Linked DNA regions of Homo sapiens. The protein of the gene in region 5 interacts with the protein of the main gene of each other region in a pairwise test. Each region holds a gene or a part of one and is shown on either strand. Other genes may lie near its edges. The genes, in order: FCHSD2, TBC1D21, SH3GLB2, SGF29 and CCDC158.

The links.
Region 1: the proteins of CCDC158 (region 5) and FCHSD2 interact in a two-hybrid assay, tested with the Homo sapiens proteins (one large-scale study listed by BioGRID and IntAct).
Region 2: the proteins of CCDC158 (region 5) and TBC1D21 interact in a two-hybrid assay, tested with the Homo sapiens proteins (one large-scale study listed by BioGRID).
Region 3: the proteins of CCDC158 (region 5) and SH3GLB2 interact in a two-hybrid assay, tested with the Homo sapiens proteins (one large-scale study listed by BioGRID and IntAct).
Region 4: the proteins of CCDC158 (region 5) and SGF29 interact in a two-hybrid assay, tested with the Homo sapiens proteins (one large-scale study listed by BioGRID and IntAct).

The regions. Positions count from the first base shown.
Region 1 is NC_000011.10:72,887,301-72,890,820, forward strand, and holds part of FCHSD2 (F-BAR and double SH3 domains protein 2), read right to left. Parts: intron 2,646-3,520; coding exon 2,529-2,645; intron 275-2,528; coding exon 170-274; intron 1-169. UniProt on the Homo sapiens protein: Adapter protein that plays a role in endocytosis via clathrin-coated pits. Contributes to the internalization of cell surface receptors, such as integrin ITGB1 and transferrin receptor.
Region 2 is NC_000015.10:73,883,546-73,886,640, forward strand, and holds part of TBC1D21 (TBC1 domain family member 21), read left to right. Parts: intron 1-605; coding exon 606-700; intron 701-1,235; coding exon 1,236-1,346; intron 1,347-1,457; coding exon 1,458-1,558; intron 1,559-2,532; coding exon 2,533-2,629; intron 2,630-2,966; coding exon 2,967-3,067; intron 3,068-3,095. UniProt on the Homo sapiens protein: Acts as a GTPase-activating protein for Rab family protein(s). Essential for the establishment of male fertility, and is required for both the production of normal sperm number and sperm function.
Region 3 is NC_000009.12:129,014,832-129,018,351, reverse strand, and holds part of SH3GLB2 (endophilin-B2), read left to right. Parts: intron 1-2,492; exon of another isoform or gene 2,493-2,612; intron 2,613-3,447; coding exon 3,448-3,520.
Region 4 is NC_000016.10:28,577,916-28,581,435, reverse strand, and holds part of SGF29 (SAGA-associated factor 29), read right to left. Parts: intron 382-3,520; 5' UTR 367-381; coding exon 292-366; intron 1-291. UniProt on the Homo sapiens protein: Chromatin reader component of some histone acetyltransferase (HAT) SAGA-type complexes like the TFTC-HAT, ATAC or STAGA complexes.
Region 5 is NC_000004.12:76,414,635-76,418,154, forward strand, and holds part of CCDC158 (coiled-coil domain-containing protein 158), read right to left. Parts: intron 1-3,520.

The DNA.
Region 1 (3,520 bases), on a different chromosome or scaffold from region 5:
ACTGCCTTCCACAGAGCAGGTACTCAACAAATACTACTGTGGACACGAATGAAGACGGTGAATCACCTTCATCTCAGTGTGTGTAGAAACTCAGTTTTAAAGATGTATATCACAGCTGTGACAGTGTCATTAGACCTGGGCAAAATGCCACAATTAGCTGCCACCTTACCTCTGCTTTACGAATATTTTCTCTAGCTTCATCTATTTTCTGTTCTAGCTCTGCTCGGCTTTGTTCTGATACAGCAGCTCCATGACACTCCAGATCATTTAGAACCTATTAAAGAAAATGGGACAATAATGATGACTGTTTTTTACTTTTCATCTTCCTTAAGTGATTAAAGTATTTACATAATTCAAAGGGCTTTAGTGACTAGTAGCCATAATTTTTTTTCATTTATTTATTTTTTGAACATTTTGAAATAATTATAGACTTACTAGTAACAAACTTACTACAGACAGTCCCTTCAGTGGGGAAGCCAGGACCAGCCACTATCTGATTGCCGCCACATGAGAGACCCCAAGGGAAACTGCTAAGCTGAGACCATCCAATACTCAGATTAGTGAGAGATAATGTAAAAACCCTCTTGTTCTATGGCATTAAGTTTGAGGTGGTTTGTTAAGCAACATTACATAAGTGGAACACTGAATTTGAGACACCTGTGAGATAGTGAAAAGAAGATGTCAAAACAGGCAAGAGATTATATGGATACACAGTAGTAGCAAGGCCCAATGTTGAAGATGTTAATTTATGATTTGGTGGTAAAGTAAAACCATGGAAGTGACTGAGAATGCCTATATGAGGGTAAAGAATAAGAAAACAAGATAGCCAAGTATAGGAATCTGAGAAACTGAATATTTCATTGTGGGATGGAGAAAGAGGAACCCATGAAAAAATCTAGGTATGGCCAGAAAGGCAGAAGGAAAGCCAGGACAATGTTGAATCGTGGATGACTAGAGAAGATAACATTTTAAGACATGGAATTGTTAATTGTGATGAAATTGTTGACAGATTAAGAAAAATGAGAAATCAAAGTGTCCACTTGGAAGCTAGCAACACAGACATCATTGGCGATTTTGGTAAGCTTAGACAGGGGAAGGAAAGGACAGGAAAGCTCAAATGTAATGGGCTAAAAAGTAAGTGGGAGGTGAGATTCTATAGATAATAAGCATAGGCAATTCTTTTAAGAAGCAGGATGTGAAGGCAAAGAATGAGACGGATATAGGTATCAATAAATGAAACAGAAAAAAAGTACTATACTCCAAATAATTTCTTTGTGCTTAGAGTTTAGTCTTCGAGATATATTTTCTTTCTTTCTTTCTTTCTTTTTTTTTTTTGGAGACAGGGTCTTTCTCTGTCACCCAGTCTGGAGTTCAGAGGCATGATCTTACCTCAATGTAACCTCCACCTCCCGGGCTCAAGCAATTCTCCCCAACCTTAGCCTCCCGAATAGGTGGGAAGATAGGTGTGCGCCCCCATGCCCGACTAATTTTTGAATTTTTTGTAGACACCGGGTTTTTTGCCATGTTGCTCAGGCTGGTCTCAAACTCCTGGTTCAAGCAATCCACTTGCCTCAGCCTCCCAAAGTTCTGGGATTACAGGCGTGAGCCACTGCGCCCAGCCAAACATATATTTTCATGAAATCTATAATTGTGTCTTTCTTTTTTCTTTTTATTGAGACAGAGTCTCGCTGTCGCCCAGGTTGGAGTGCAGTGGCGTGATCTCAGCTCACTGCAAGCTCCGCCTCCCAGGTTCATGCCATTCTCCTGCCTCAACCTCCCGAGTAGCTGGGACTACAGGTGCCCGCCACCACACTCGGCTAATTTTTTGTATTTTTAGTAGAGATGGGGTTTCACCGTAACACATGTTAGCCAGGATGGTCTCGATCTCCTGACCTTGTGATCCACCCACCTCGGCCTCCCAAAGTGCTGGGATTACAGGCGTGAGCCACCGCGCCCGGCTATAATTATGTCTTTTAAAAAATATGTCTTGAGGGATGAAAACTTATATTAATTCAACATATGTCTCTTCCCCTGCCCATAATACACTATCACAATTTTCTTTGTTAATTTTATGGTAAACAGGTAAATTAATGTATTGCTGATGGAGGGCTTAAGGAAATTCCAACATGAGTAGATAGCTGACAGCACACTGCTGAGTGTTGAGAAAGTACAGAAAAAACACATATAATGCTTGAGCAAAGGAGTTTGAGACCAGCCTGGGAAACATGGCAAGACCCTATCTCTACAAAAAATCTAAAAAAATTTAGCCAGGCATAGTGGCATGTGCCTGTGGTCCCAGCTACTTGGGAGGCTGAAGTGGGAGAACTGCTTCAGCCCAGGAGGTTGAAGCTGCAGTAAGCCATGTTCACACCACTGCCCTTCAACCTGGGTGACAGAGCAAGCCTCTTGTCTCAAATAAAACAAAACAACACATATAGGATATTTTTCACATTAATAAAACTCAGTTCCTTAAACTGTTTGACATTTGGCTTAAGGTGAATGTAACTAGGACTTTCTCTTACACTTACCCGTTGTTGGTGAACAATGTTTTTATGCTCACGTGCCACACGTGTGGCCCATTTTCGAGCTTCCTTATTTAGACTGTGCTCCTCTGTGGTCCCAGTTTCTGATTCTAACTGTCGGCTCTACAATACAAGAGAGAACAGAGATAAAAATATTGCTATCCTTATTGTAACCACTACTGCTTTGTAGATGGATCAGAAGGCCTTCACTTAATCAGCACTCAAAACATGAGGCACGCTCCACTACTGCTGGAAGCAATGTCTTAACGTCACAGAAAGTTACCAGAAGAGTAAGATCAGCATAAAACCATTAAAGACCATAAGCTTTTTGTCTTACACTGCTGAACACAAAAGCATCATCTATAATACTGCAGACTTATCTTTTTGGGTGTGATGGACTTATCTTTCCGAGTGGGAAGGAAGCTAGCTAAGGTAAGCAAAGAAGAAAATGTATTCATGCCAACCTACTATGGTGATAAAATCATTGCATAAATAAAAATGGAAACAACTTAATAGTTTAAATGTGAGTAAAGAATCATTAAAGAGAAGTAAGAACAAAACAATATAATAACAGCAACACAATCTTGCACCCCTCCCCCTGCCCCAAGGCAGACGGAACTCTTTAGAGGTCCACCATCAACTTGCCACCAAACCTCAAAAGCCAGCTTTTGCTCTTTCTCCAGGCTTCATATGAAAGATAAGGGTGCTAGATCAAATGATCACCAAGGGTTTCTTCTAGCTCTAAAATGCTATGATTCTGATTTACAAAGAACAAACCACAAAATCTAAATAAAAATAGTAATAGCTAACTTCTATTGTGCAAGGTACTATGGAAAGTGCTTCATATAACTTTTTTTTTTTTTAACAACCTGATGATGTGGGTCCCACATCATTTTATAGAAAAGAAAACAGAGGCTCAGAGAGGTTAATTTTTCCTGGATGTCCTAGATGTTAAATGTTACAACCTTAATTGACCGATTCCAGAATCAGAGCTATTA
Region 2 (3,095 bases), on a different chromosome or scaffold from region 5:
CACATGTCATTGGATTTGGGGTCCACCTGGAAAGTCTTACGGATCTCGTCCGGAGATCCTTGACTTAGTCACATCTACAAAGACTCTTTTCCCCCACATGGTTACATTCACAGGTCCTAGGGGTTAGGACATGGATATGTCTTTTTGGAGGCCACCATGCGGCCAGCAATACCAACTAATCATATTCTAATAATGAGGACAAAACACCGCCTCACTCAGCACTTCCAATTCTGAGGCACAGGTGCCAGTATTATGCCCATTCTACAGATGGGGAAACTGAGGCTTAGAGATGGAAAGTCGTGTCCCCAAGACTTGCCCCCAGTGGCAGACACCCCGTTATTAAGATGTAGAGCCAGGATTCAGGTGCAGCGTTTGGAGTACAGAGCCCAAGAAGTTAAACTGTCTCTGTTCTGCAGTCCAGGTGCATGTTGGAGGACAGTTAGGGTGGCACAGGTTGAGATGAGGGACAGCATCACAGGTAGGGTGCATGGCTGGGTGAGGGTGCTGCCCTGGATCTGCCTGGGGCCTGGTAGCTGCAGCTGCTCATTCACCACTTATCAGAAGGGGAAAAGCCACCTTGTTCAGCCTCAGTTCTGTTCTCACAGGAAGAACTACAAGGCCTTATGCCAAATGTATGAGAAGATTCAGCCCCTTCTGGAAAACCTGCACCGGAACTTCACAGAGACTCGCAATAACATTGGTGAGCAAAGTGGGGTGGAGAGGGCTGGGCAGAGGGAGGGCTTGAAGCCAACCCTGCCCCCTTCTCAGCCACTTCCAGGGAGGGATGGCTCCAGGATCCTGGGAGTTGCTTTGACTTGTGCCTGGAGTTTCGCCAGCTGAACCTTGGTTAATCCACCCCACCAGTCTCTCCTGGGTGGCCCTAGATGCCCCATACCATGTTTTCCTGGGTGCATGATGTTCCTGCTGCCTGGTCTTCCTCTCTCCTTTCTTTGGCTTTGAATGAGGTTGGATTTGAACTGGACAGAGAGGAAGGGTGGGGGAGGACATTCCTGGCCGAGGGTACGGCCTCGTTAGAGGGTTGGAGGTGGGAAGAAACACAGACAGCTCAAGGTGTGGTGAGGAACTGAGCCTGGCAGGGGCTGATGTACCTTTCACAGCTCCCTCTCCCTCCAGGATGTCCTAGGGCCTGCCCATTGGGGTAGGGGAAGAAATTCACCCATAGACCTGCTGGATGTGATCTGGTGCCACCTACTTGCCCCTTGCTTCCAACCTAGCACGTGACATTCAGAAAATCTATGACAAAGATCCCCTGGGCAACGTCCTCATCGACAAGAAGAGGCTAGAGAAGATCCTGCTCCTGAGTTACGTCTGCAACACGCAGGCAGGTGAGCCTCAGCCTCCCCTTGTCAATGCCCTCCCAGGACCTGGCCCAACCTAAGCCAAGGGTCCAGGCTCTCCCACCCAGCCCCTCCTCCCCAACCCCCTCTTCGCCACAGAGTACCAGCAGGGCTTCCATGAGATGATGATGCTCTTCCAGCTGATGGTGGAGCACGACCACGAGACCTTCTGGCTTTTCCAGTTCTTCCTGCAGAAAACGGTGAGGGCAAGGCCTGAGCTCAGGGACGCCCCTCCCCAACCCCCCACTACTCCCCAAACAACTCTTTGAGGATGGGCAGGCATTGGCCACCCCAGCCATTCCTTCCAGGCTTCTGGGTCTCAGAGGAGCCTGGGAGGGTGACGCTAAACCCAGTGGTTCAAAGTAGTGGTGGTGGGGAGGCACTGAAGTGGAGAAGGGGGATGGAGCAAAGCTCTGGGTCCACCTCTCAACAAACCTTGAAAGAGCATGGCTGGCCAGGCCCAGGGAAGGTGCCCTCTCCTGGCATTTTCTTCCCCAAGCACGGTTCTCCTCCCTCCTCGCTGCTTCTTCCTCAATGGCTCCCTGTGGCCTCCAGAATAAAATCCAATAACCTTAGCCAGTCATTCAGGGCTGTTCCCTTCACATAACCTGAATTCCAGGCACACCAGGGGACTCAATAGTCCCCAGGGGCTCCCTCACTGTCCAAGTTGAGGGGTTTTGAAGGTGCAGCTCCCTGGAACACCTCCCTGGAAAGCCTTTCCTCATGATCTGCGAGAGGCTGCCCAGAACCCTCCCTCATCCCTCCCTCCACCCCACCATCCCTGCACATGTGCTTGCTGCCCTTCCCTTGTCCCAGTTGGCTCTGCCCCAACACTATTGTGTGAGGGAAGAACTGGGCAACTGGGCTCACTAGACTGTGAGCCACAGTTGAGAATCTCTACTACACACACATACACACACACACACACACACACACACTACACAGCCACCCAGAGGCGTACAACATATACAGACAAACTTGCATACACAGATCACAGTCACATAGATATGTATGCACACACTCACACACACACACTCAGACTCATAGAGACATGGGCCCAGCGCACAGACAGACACACAGAGCCTCCAGAAGTGAAGCTGGGGGAAGCAGAGTTGACTCTTCCGGTGCCTTGAAGCCAAGGGGGACTCAGTCTGTCTCCCACCATCGTGTGCAGGAACACAGCTGTGTCATCAACATTGGCGTGGCCAAGAACCTAGACATGCTCAGCACCCTGATCACCTTCCTGGACCCCGTGTTTGCTGAGCACCTAAGTGAGTGGTTCCCACCTCCTGCCACCTCACGCACCCCCCAGGCATGGGAAGGGGGCTGGGACCCAACTGTCAGTCCCTAATCATGGGGGGGCTGGAGAGCAGCAGAATCATTTGATTGCTTCTCCAGGCCCTGGGAAGAGGGTTATCTGGATGGGGTTGGAGCCTGGACAGTTGAAAGTTGACTCTAAACCATCTCCCAGGGCAGCTGGAAAAGGGGCGGCAGGCTTTTTGTATTTCCCAAGTGTTTTGCAGGCTCTGTAGTTTGGCCTCATCTGCATGTGTTTGCTGCATCATATGTGTTTTCCCCTGACCACAGCCTCACCTTCTCTCCCCACAGAAGGGAAGGGTGCAGGGGCTGTGCAGTCCCTCTTCCCCTGGTTCTGCTTCTGCTTCCAGCGTGCCTTCAAGTCCTTCGATGATGTCTGGAGGCTCTGGGAGGTGAGGTGTCCAGCTAGGGATCATCAGG
Region 3 (3,520 bases), on a different chromosome or scaffold from region 5:
CCCGCCTTGGCCTCCCAAAGTGCTGGGATTACAGGCGTGAGCCACTGCGCCCAGCCAATTTAATTTAACTTTTTAAGAAGTTGCCAAACTGTTTTCCAAAGTAGCTGTATGATTTTTTTATTCCTGTCAGTAGTGTGTTGTTTCATTTTCAGATATTTGTGGATTTTCTGGGTTTTCTTCTATTGTTGCTTTTAACTTAATTCCACTGCGATCAGAGAATGTATGAACATGTCGTGCTATGTTAGTATTATTATTATTTTGAGATGGAGTCTCGCTCTGTCGCCCAGGCTGGAGTGCAATGGTGCCATCTGGGCTCACTGCAAGCTCCACTTCCCAGGTTCAAGGGATCCTCCACCTCAGCCTCTCAGCCTTCTGAGTAGCTGAGATTACAGGCACGCACCATCACGCACCTATAATCACACCCAGCTAATTTTTTTTTTTTTTTTTTTTGTTTGAGACGGAATCTCGCTCTGTCGCCCAGGCTGGAGTGCAGTGGCACGATCTCGGCTCACTGCAACCTCCGCCTCTCGTGTTCATGCCATTCTCCTGCCTCAGCCTCCCAAGTAGCTGGGACTACAGGCACCTGCCACCATGCCAGGCTAATTTTTTTTTTTTTCAGTGGAGACGGGATTTCACCGTGTTAGCCAGGATAGTCGATCTCCTGACCTCGTGATCCACCCACCTTGGCCTCCCAGAGTGCTGGGATTACAGGTGTGAGCCATCACACCCGGCGTATTTTTTGTATTTTTAATAGAGATGGGGGTCTCACCATGTTGGCCAGGCTGGTCTCAAACTCCTGATCTCAAGTGATCCGCCTGCCTTAGCCTCCCAAAGTGCTGGGATTACAGGCATGAGCCAGCACACCCAGCCTCATATTTTTATTGTTTTAATCCTTTTAAATTTATTGAGACTTGTTTCATGACCTAGTATATGGTCTATCTGGGGAATGTCCTAGGTTCACTTGAGAAGATGTGATATTATGCTGTTGAGGGTGCAGTGCTGTATAGGTGTCAGCGAGGCCACATCGGTTAATAGTGTTCAAGGCTTGTATGTCCTTGCTGATTTTGTCTTGTCCTATTCATTATCAAGAGTAGACTATTGAGGCTGGGCATGGTGGCTCACACCTGTAATCCCGCCACTTTGGGAGGTCAAAGTGGTTGGATCACCTGAGGTCAGGAGTTCAAGACCAGCCTGGCCAACATGGTGAAATCCTGTCTCTACTAAAAATACAAAAAAATTAGCTGGGCATGCTGGTGCGCGCCTATAGTCCCAGCTACTTGGGAGGCTGAGGCAGGAGAATTGCTGGAACCCGGGAGGCGTAGGTTGCAGCGAGCCAAGAGCGCGCCACTGCACTCCAGCCTGGGAGACAGAGTGAGACCAAAAAAAAAAAAAAAAAAAAAGAGCAGAGTATTCAAGTTTCCAACTATTACTGTTGAATTATCTTATTTCTCTCTTTGTCAGTGTTTGCCTTATGTATTTTGGAACTGTCTTAGGTCTGTATGTTTATATTTGTGCATCTTCCTGATGAATTGACTCTTTCATTATAAAATACTATTCTTTGTCTCTAGTACTATTTTGTGTTAAAGTCTATTTTGTCTGGTAGTAGTATAGCCACGTTAACTCTCTCGTGGTTACTGCATACATGGTGTACTTTTTTCAGCCCATTCATGTCTTTAAATTTAAAGTGTATCTTTGGATTTTTTTTTTTTTCTGTCACCCAGGCGGGAGTGCAGTGGTGCGATCTTGGTTCACTGCGACCTCCACCTCCCGGTTTCAAGCGATTATCCTACCTCAGCCTCCTGAGTAGCTGGGATTACAGGTGCTTGCCACCACGCCTGGCTAATTTTTGTATTTTTAGTAGAGACAGGTTTCACCAAGTTGGTTAGGCTGGTCTTGAACTCCTGACCTCATGATCCGCCTGCCTCAGCCTTCCAAAGTGCTGGGATTACAGGTGTGAGCCACCGCACCCGGCCGTATCTTTTTTTTTTTTTTTTTTTTTTTTTTTTTTTAAAGACAGTCTTGCTCTTGTTGCCCAGGCTGGAGTACAGTGGTGTGACGTTGGCTCACTGCAACCTCTGCCTCCTGGGTTCAAGCAATTCTCCTGCCTCAGTCTCCCAAGTAGCTGGAATTACAGATGCACACCACCACACCCAGCTAATTTTTGTATTTTTAGTAGAGACGAGGTTTTGCCATGTTGTCCAGGTTGGTCTCGAACTCCTGACCTCAAGTGACCCACCCACTTTAGCCTCCCAAAGTGCTAGAATTACAGGCGTGAGCCACTGCGCCCGGCCTTGCCTTCACTTTTGAAGGATTGTTTTGCTATATATAGAATTCCTGGATGAACAATTTTTTCTTTACTTTGAATATATTATCTTACTGCTGTCTGGCTTCTATTGTTTCTAATGAGAAGACAATTCATCTTATTTTAGCTCTCTTGTATGTGATGAATCAAACCATGTTTTTTCTTTTCTTTTCTTTTTTTTAAAGACAGGATCTTGCTGTGTCACCCAGACTGGAGTGCAGTGGTGCAATCATAGCTTACTACTATAGCCTCAAACTCCTGGGTTCAAATGATCCTTCCGCCTGGGCCTCCCAGAGTATTGGGATTACAGGTGTGAGCCAGCGCGCCCAGCCTCTTATTGTTTCTTCACATATTTTTTCTGCCTTATTTTCTCCTCCTCTTCTGGGACTCTTGTTAGTCATATGTTGGTTCACTTGACAGTGCCCCGTAGGTGCTGAGGCGCTGCTCATTTTTCTTATGATTTTCTATTTATTTTTTATAAAGACAAGGTTTTGCCATGTTGCCCGGGCTGGTCTTGAACAGCTGGGTTCAAGCAGTCTGCCCACCTTGGTTTTCCAAAGTGCTGAGATTACAGGTGTGAGCCACAGCATCCAGCCCAGTAGTTTTTCTTGATTAAATGCTTTTCAATTTGTTTTTTGCCTTGGTCAATTTGCAGAGTCCAGAAATGGATGTTTTTGACAATTGTGTCCAGTTTTCTTTCAATTTGTTTTATTTTCAAAGAGATAAGGTCTCCCTATGTTGCCCAGGGTGGTCTGGAACTGCCGAGCTCAAGTGATCCTCCCGTCTCGGCCTCCCAGAGTGCTAGGATTATAGGTGTGAGCCACCGCACCTGGCGTGGTGTCCAGTTTTATTGTTACTTTTTTTGGGAGGGGATTTGTTGAGCTCCTTTCTCTGACATTCTGGAAGTCTAACCCCGATCTTTATAATGGCTGCATTGTGTTCCATATTTTGGCTGTCCCATTGTTTATTTGTTAGTTCCCAGTTGATGGTGTAGTGTAGGTTGCTTCTGCTTTTTCCCAGGCAAAGCATTCTGCACTGAGCACCCCGGCCCTTGCTCTTCAGCAAGCTCTTCCTGAGCCCTCTCCTGTAGATCAGAGTAGCCTGAGCCTGACCTTCTTCCTCACGCTTCAACTCTGTTTTCTCAGGGAAGACACTGATCAAGGTGGCAGAAGCTGAAAAGCAACTGGGAGCCGCGGAGAGGGATTTTATCCACACGGC
Region 4 (3,520 bases), on a different chromosome or scaffold from region 5:
TTTGTGAGCTGCGAAAAACCACTGGATTATACACTTTAAATGGGTGCGTTGTATGGCATGTGAATTCTATCTCAGGATAGCTGTCAAACAAAATGAATCATGAAATCCTGTACATGGTAGAAAATCCAACAGGAATGGTAGCCATACACCAAATTCCCCTCCTTTCACTTTTATTACGTCATTTTGGTTCCTGCGAGTCCAATCTCTCTGAACACAAATGCCACCCCCACTTCACGGCTCAGCATCAAAGCCCATGTTCCCATCTGGGAATGGAGGGTGGTGACTTTTTACCTGGGTTTGTTTGATCAGCTGATGGAGCTCTGTGAGAAGTTCTGCAATGCGGGAATCGGCAGACACGAGGGCCATTGTCTACAGGGGCACCTGGTGGGGGAGCGAGGACAGAAGAGAACTCTGTTAGTGGCTGCTGTGGGCTGAACTGTGCCCCCTCAAAAGATACATTAGGCCTGGAGGCTCATGCTGTAATCCCAGCACTTTGGGAGGCCAAGGCGGGAGGATTGCTTGAGGCCAGGAGTTCAAGACCAGCCTGGGCAACACGGAGACCCCGTCTTTACAAAAAAATTAAAAACTTAGCCCGGCATAGTGGCACACATCTGTAGTCCCAGCTATTCGAGAAGCTAAGGTGAGTGGATCGCTAGGCCCTAGGGGGTTGAGGCTGCATGAGCTACGATCGTGCCATTGCACTCCAGCCTACATGACAGTGTGACACCCTATCCCTTTAAAAGATAGTAATAATAAAAAGATACATTGTAGTCCTAACCATGGTACCTGTAATGTCACCTTGTTTGGAATTAGGGTCTTTGGAGAAGTATTTAAGATGTCACTAAGATGAAGTCATAGTGGAATAGGGTGTGCCCTTAATCCAGACACACAGCCAGGTGCAGACAGAAGCAGCGACTGGACTTGGACAGCTGCAAGCCAGGGGATGCCAAGGACTGCCGGCAGCCACCCATCCAGCCGGGAGAGATGCGCGGAGTAACGGCCCCGTCTAAGCCTCCAAGAAGCAACAATCCCTTGTCTTTGGAACCAAGCTGACATCTTGATTTTGGAATTATGGCCCCTAGAACTGTGATGGAATAAATTTCTCTTGTCTTAAGCCACCCAGCTTGCAGTAACTTGTTATGGCAGCCATAAGAAATGAATACAGTGGCAAGCTATCCTTGGATTCTCCTCCACCCTATTGATATGTTTGAATGTCATATGTTCGACGAAGTCAAGGAGTCAAGGAGTGTATAATTTTTGTATATAAATACAAAAATTAATATGAAGTGCCTTAAAAAGATAGCATGCCCTTAGCCCCTGCTCTGCTGCCAATATCCTGACAAATGATTCAAACATTTCTGGTATCCATATTTTAATCTGTAAAATGGGGATCATCTCTGCTATATTTTGGGAGATTCAAATAAGATTTTATATGAAGACACTTTCCAAGTCATAAAACGCTGTTACTTTCTTACTATAGTGGGAAGATAATTTTTTTTTTTTTGAGACGGGAGTCTTGCCCTGTCACCTAGGCTGGAGTGCAGTGGTGTGATCTTGGCTCACTGCAATCTCTGCCTCCCAGGTTCAAGCAATTCTCCTGCCTCAGCCTCCTGAGTAGCTGAGATTACAGGTGTGTGCCACCATGTCCAGCTAATTTTTGTATTTTTAGTAGAGATGGGGTTTCACCATGTTGGCCAGGCTGGTCTCAAACTCCTGACCTCAGGTGATCTGCTTGCTTCAGTCTCCCACAGTGCTGGGATTACAGGCGTGAGCCACCACGCCCAGCCAGCATGGGGAGAGAAACTACTGTAAAATATCTCAATCAAGATGAATGTACTCTGATGAAAATAAAATGCTTCTGTACAATAAAAGATAATTAGGGCCGGGCGTGGTGGCTCATGCCTGTAATCCCAGCACTTTGGGAGGCCGAGGAGGGCAGATCATGAGGTCAAGAGATCAAGACCATCCTGGCCAACATGGTGAAACCTTGTCTCTACTAAAAATACAAAAATTAGCTGGGCATGGTGGTGGGCACCTGTAGTCCCAGCTACTCAGGAAGCTGAGGCAGGAGAATTGCTTGAACCCGGGAGATGGAGGTTGCAGTGCGCCGAGATCACGCCACTGCACTCCAGCCTGGCGACAGAGTGAGACTCCGTCTCAAAAAAAAAAAAAAAAAAAGATAATTAGAACAAGAGTAAAAAGACAACCAAAAGTAATCAAGAGTGTAAGTTACAAGTAGGTGAAAATAGACATATGCCTCAAGATAAAGGTATATTTGATAAAATAAGGGGATATTTTTTACAGTGCTAAAATTTTGCACAATAGCCTGCATCTTACAAAGTTTGTTCAAGCTGGGGGCAGTGACTAACACCTGTAATCCCAGCACTTTGGGAGGCGAAGGTAGGAGGATGGTTTGAGTCCAGGAGCTCGAGATCAGCCTGGACAATACAGCAAGACCCTGTCTCTATTTTTATTTTTTATTTATTTATTTTTTGAGATAGAGTCTTGCTCTGTCGCCCAGGCTAGAGTGCAGCGGTGCGATCTCTGCTCACTGCAACCTCGGCATCCTGGGTTCAAGCGATTCACCTGCCTCAGCCTCCAGAGTAGCTGGGATTACAGGCACCCGCCACCTTGCCTGGCTAATTTTTTGTATTTTTAGTAGAGACGGGGTTTCACCATCTTGGCCAGGCTGGTCTCAAACTCCTGACCTCGTGATCCACCCACCTCGCCCTCTTTTTTTTTTTTTTTTTTAAAGTTGTTCAACTAACACATCCTCCTACTCACAGAGATCAGATTCACGATGAATGGAGTAAACTCTTCCCCCCACTTAATCAACTGCGAACCTCTCGCCATGTATTTATTCATATCTTCTTACATGCTCTGCTGCTGCTATTTAAAAGTATAATAACATACAAACTAGGAATAGAGGGTAACCTCCTCAACCTGATGAAGGGCATCTATGAAAAACCCACAACGAACATCAGACTTAAAGGCGAAAGATTAAAAGCTTTCCCCTAAGTCAGGAACAAGATGAGCATGGGCCCTTGTCATTTCTAGTCAACATTGTTCTGGAGGCTCTCGCCAGGGCAATGAGGCAATAAGATGAAATAAAAGGCATCCACATTGGAAAGGAAGAAGTACAACTATTTCTATTTGCAGATGACATGACCTTGTATATAGAAAACCCTAAGGAATCCATTAAACAACTATTAGGACTAAGACAAGGTTAGAACTCATAGCAAAGTTGCAGGATACGAGATCAATAAACAAAACTCAATTGTGGCCAGGCCCCAGAGGCTCACGCCTGTAATCCCAGCACTTTGGGAGGCTGAGGCGGGAGGATCACTTGCAGCCAGGGGTCCAGACGAGCCTAGGCCACCAGACGAGCCTGAGCCCCACTTCTACTTTATAAATTTTTTAACTTTAAAAAAAGAAAGCTACAGTAATCAAGATGTTGTAAGCAAAGACATCTAGTTCAATGGAATAGAACTGAGAAACCAGAAATGGTCGACTAATTTTC
Region 5 (3,520 bases):
TGAATCATGGAGGCCGGTCTTTCCCGTGCTATTCTTGTGATAGTGAATAAGTTTTATGAGATCCGATGGGGTTGTAAGGGTTTTCCGCTTTTGCTTCTTCATTTTCTCTTGCTGCTGCCAAGTAAGAAGTGCCTTTTGCCTCCTTCATGATTCTGAAACCTCCCCAGCCGTGTGGAACTGTAAGTCCAATTAAACCTCTTTTTCTTCTTCTCAGTATGTCTTTAACAGCAGCGTGAAAACAGACTAATACAGTAAATTGGTACCAGTAGTGTGGGGCATTGCTGAAAAGATACCAGAAAATGTGGACGCGACTTTGCAACTGGGTAACAGGCAGAGGTTGGAACAGTTTGGAGGGCTCAGATGAAGACAGGAAAATGTGAACTTCCTAGAGAATTGTTGAATGGCTTTGCCCAAGGTGCCAATAACAATATGGACAATAAGGTCCAGGCTGAGGTGGTCAGATGGAGATGAGGAACTTGTTGGGAACTAGAGTAAAGTTCTTGCTATGTAAGAACTTTAAGCATAGTAAACTCTTGCTATGCTTTAGCAAAGAGTCTGGTAGCATTTTGCCCCTTCTCTAAAGATCTGTGGAACTTTGATCTTGAGAGAGATGATTTAGGGTATCTGGCAGGATAAATTTCTAAGCAGCAAACCATTAGAGAGGTGACCCGGGTACTGTTAAAGCCATTCAGTTTTATAAGGGAAGCAGAGCATAAAAGTTTGGAAAATTTGCAGCCTGACTATGTGATAGAAAAGGAAAATCCATTTTCTGGGGAGAAATTCAAGCCGGCTGCAGAAATTTGCATAAGTAGCAAGGAGTCTGTGGGCGGCAAGCCATCCAGGTGCCGAGGCAAGAGACCGAGGGCATGAGCTGTTCCAGTATAATAAAATATACAAAATAATAAGAATAGTTATACTAGATATAGATCTTAGATATGATTATATATGAATATCATTAATCATTAGCTTGTAGCAATTATTCTTTATTCCAATATTATAATAATCCTCACTCTACAATCATAACCTAGGAAAAACCAGGCCATACAGAGATAGGAGCTGAGGGGACATAGTGAGAAGTGACCAGAAGATGAGTGCAAGCCTTCTGTTATGCCCGGACAGGGCCACCAAAGGGCTCCTTGGTCTAACGGTAATGCCAGTGTCTGGGAAGACGCCCATTTTCAAGTGGACTGTGGTCTAGTGGTAGCGTCAGTGTCAAGGAAAAATACCCGCTACTTAGCAGACCGGGAAAGGGAGTCTCAATTTCCCCGGGGGAGTTTAGAGAAGACTCTACTCCTCCACCTCTTGTGGAGGGCCTGACAGGCCCGCCTGCAGTTATCCAGAGGCCTAACCGTCTCCCTGTGATGCTGTCCTTCAGTGGTCATGCTCCTAGTCCGCCTTCATCTTCCATCCTGTTCACCTGGCTCTGCCTTTTAGATAGCAGTAGCAAATTAGTGAAAGTACTAGAAGTCTCTGATAAGCAGAAATAATGGTGTAAGCTGTCTCTCTCTCTCTCCTCTCTCTCTCTGCCTCAGCTGCCAGGCAGGGAACGGCCCCCTGTCCAGTGGACATGGGACCCATGTGACCTTACCTATCATTGGAGATGGCTCACACTCCTTACCCTGCCCCTTTTCTTGTATCCAATAAATATCAGCACAGCCTGGCATTTGGGGCCACTACCGGTCTCCGCGTCTTGGTTGTAGTGGTCCCCCAGGCCCAGCTGTCTTTTATCTCTTTGTCTTGTCTCTTTATTTCTACACTCTCTCATCTCCGCACACGGGGAGAAAACCCACTGACCCTGTGGGGCTGGACTCTACAGAGTCTAATGTTAATCCCCAAGACCATGGGAAAATGTCTCCAGGCCATGTCAGAGACCTTCATGGCAGCCCACCCCAACACAGGCCCAGAGGCCCAGGAGAAAAAAGTGGTTTTGTGGGCTGAGCCCAGGGTCCCTGTGCTGTGTGCAGCCTAGGGACTTCGTGCCCTGTGTCCCAGCTGCTCCAGTCATGGCTGAAAGGGGCCAATGTGCAGCTCAGGCTGTGGCTTCAGAGACTGGAAACTCCAAGCCTTGGCAGCTTCCATGTGGTGTTAAGCCTGAAGGTGCACAGGCCTCAAGAATTGAGGTTTGGGAACCTCTGCCTAGATGTCAGATGTATGGAAACGCCTGGATGCCCAGGCAAAAGTTTGCTGTAGGGATGGGACCGTTATGGAGAACCTCTGCTAGCTCAGTGCTGAAGGGAAATGTGGGGTTGGAACCCCCACACAGAGTCCCTACTGGGCACTGCCTAATGGAGTTGTTAAGAAGAGGGCCACCATCCTCCAGACCCCAGAATGGTAGATCCACCAACACCTTGCACTGTGCACCTGAAAAGCTGCAGACACTCAACACCAGCCCATGAAAGCATCTGGGAGAGAGGCTGTACCCTGCAAAGCCACAGGGGTTGGAGCTGCCCAAGACCATGGGAACCCATCTCTCGCATCAGCGTGACCTTGATGTGAGACATGGAGTCAAAGGAGATCATTTTGTAGCTTTAAAATTTGACTGCCCTGCTGGATTTTGGATTTGCATGGGCCCTGTAACTCCTTTGTTTTGGCCAATTTCTCCTATTTAGAATGGCTATATGTACCCAATACCTGTACCCTCATTGTATCTAGGAAGTAACTAGCTTGTTTTTGATTTTACAGGCTCATAGCCAGAAGGGACTTGGCTCGTCTCAGATGAGACTTTGGACTGAAGACTTTTGCATTAATGCTGAAATGAGTTAAGACTTTGGGGGACTACTGGTAAGGCATGATTGGTTTTGAAATGTAAGGACATGAGATTTGGAGGGGCCACAGGTGGAATGATATGGTTTGCCTGTGTCCCCACCCAAATCTCAACTTGAACTGTATATCCCAGAATTCCCATGTGTCATGGGAGCGACCCAGGGGGAGGTAATTTTCTCTTGCTGCCGCCATGTAAGAAGTGCCTTTTGCCTCCCACCATGATTCTGAGGCCTTCCCAGCCATGTGGAACTGTAAGTCCAATTAAACCTCTTTTTCTTCCCACTCTCGGGTATGTCTTAGCAGCATGAAAACAGACTAACACAGCTCCTCTAGTTAGGGTAGGTGAGGGAAGGCCTTCCTAAGGAGGTGGCATTGAACTGAATGACAGAAAGGGGTCAGCCTCACAGTGGCCAGGGATAACTTCTTAAAAGAAATGCCATCACAAAGGCCCAAAAATGAGAAGAGCTCAGTGTTCACTGACTCCCAGTGAAGAAGGCTAATGAGGCTGCAGGGTAGCTAAGTGGGGATGAGAGGGCTTCTAATGGAGGCCAACTATGTGTCATGCCAAAAGGAACACTGTGCTTATCACTTCCTTTCCTACACTATCCTGAGAAGATGTCAGTGAGGTTGGCGGAGGTAAAGCTCATGGGGCCTTGAAAAGGCCACATACTGAAGACTTTGGGGCTTATTCTAAACGCAACGCAAAGCACTGGAGGATTTTAATCAAGGGCATATGATCCTCCAGCGGCTGAGTAGA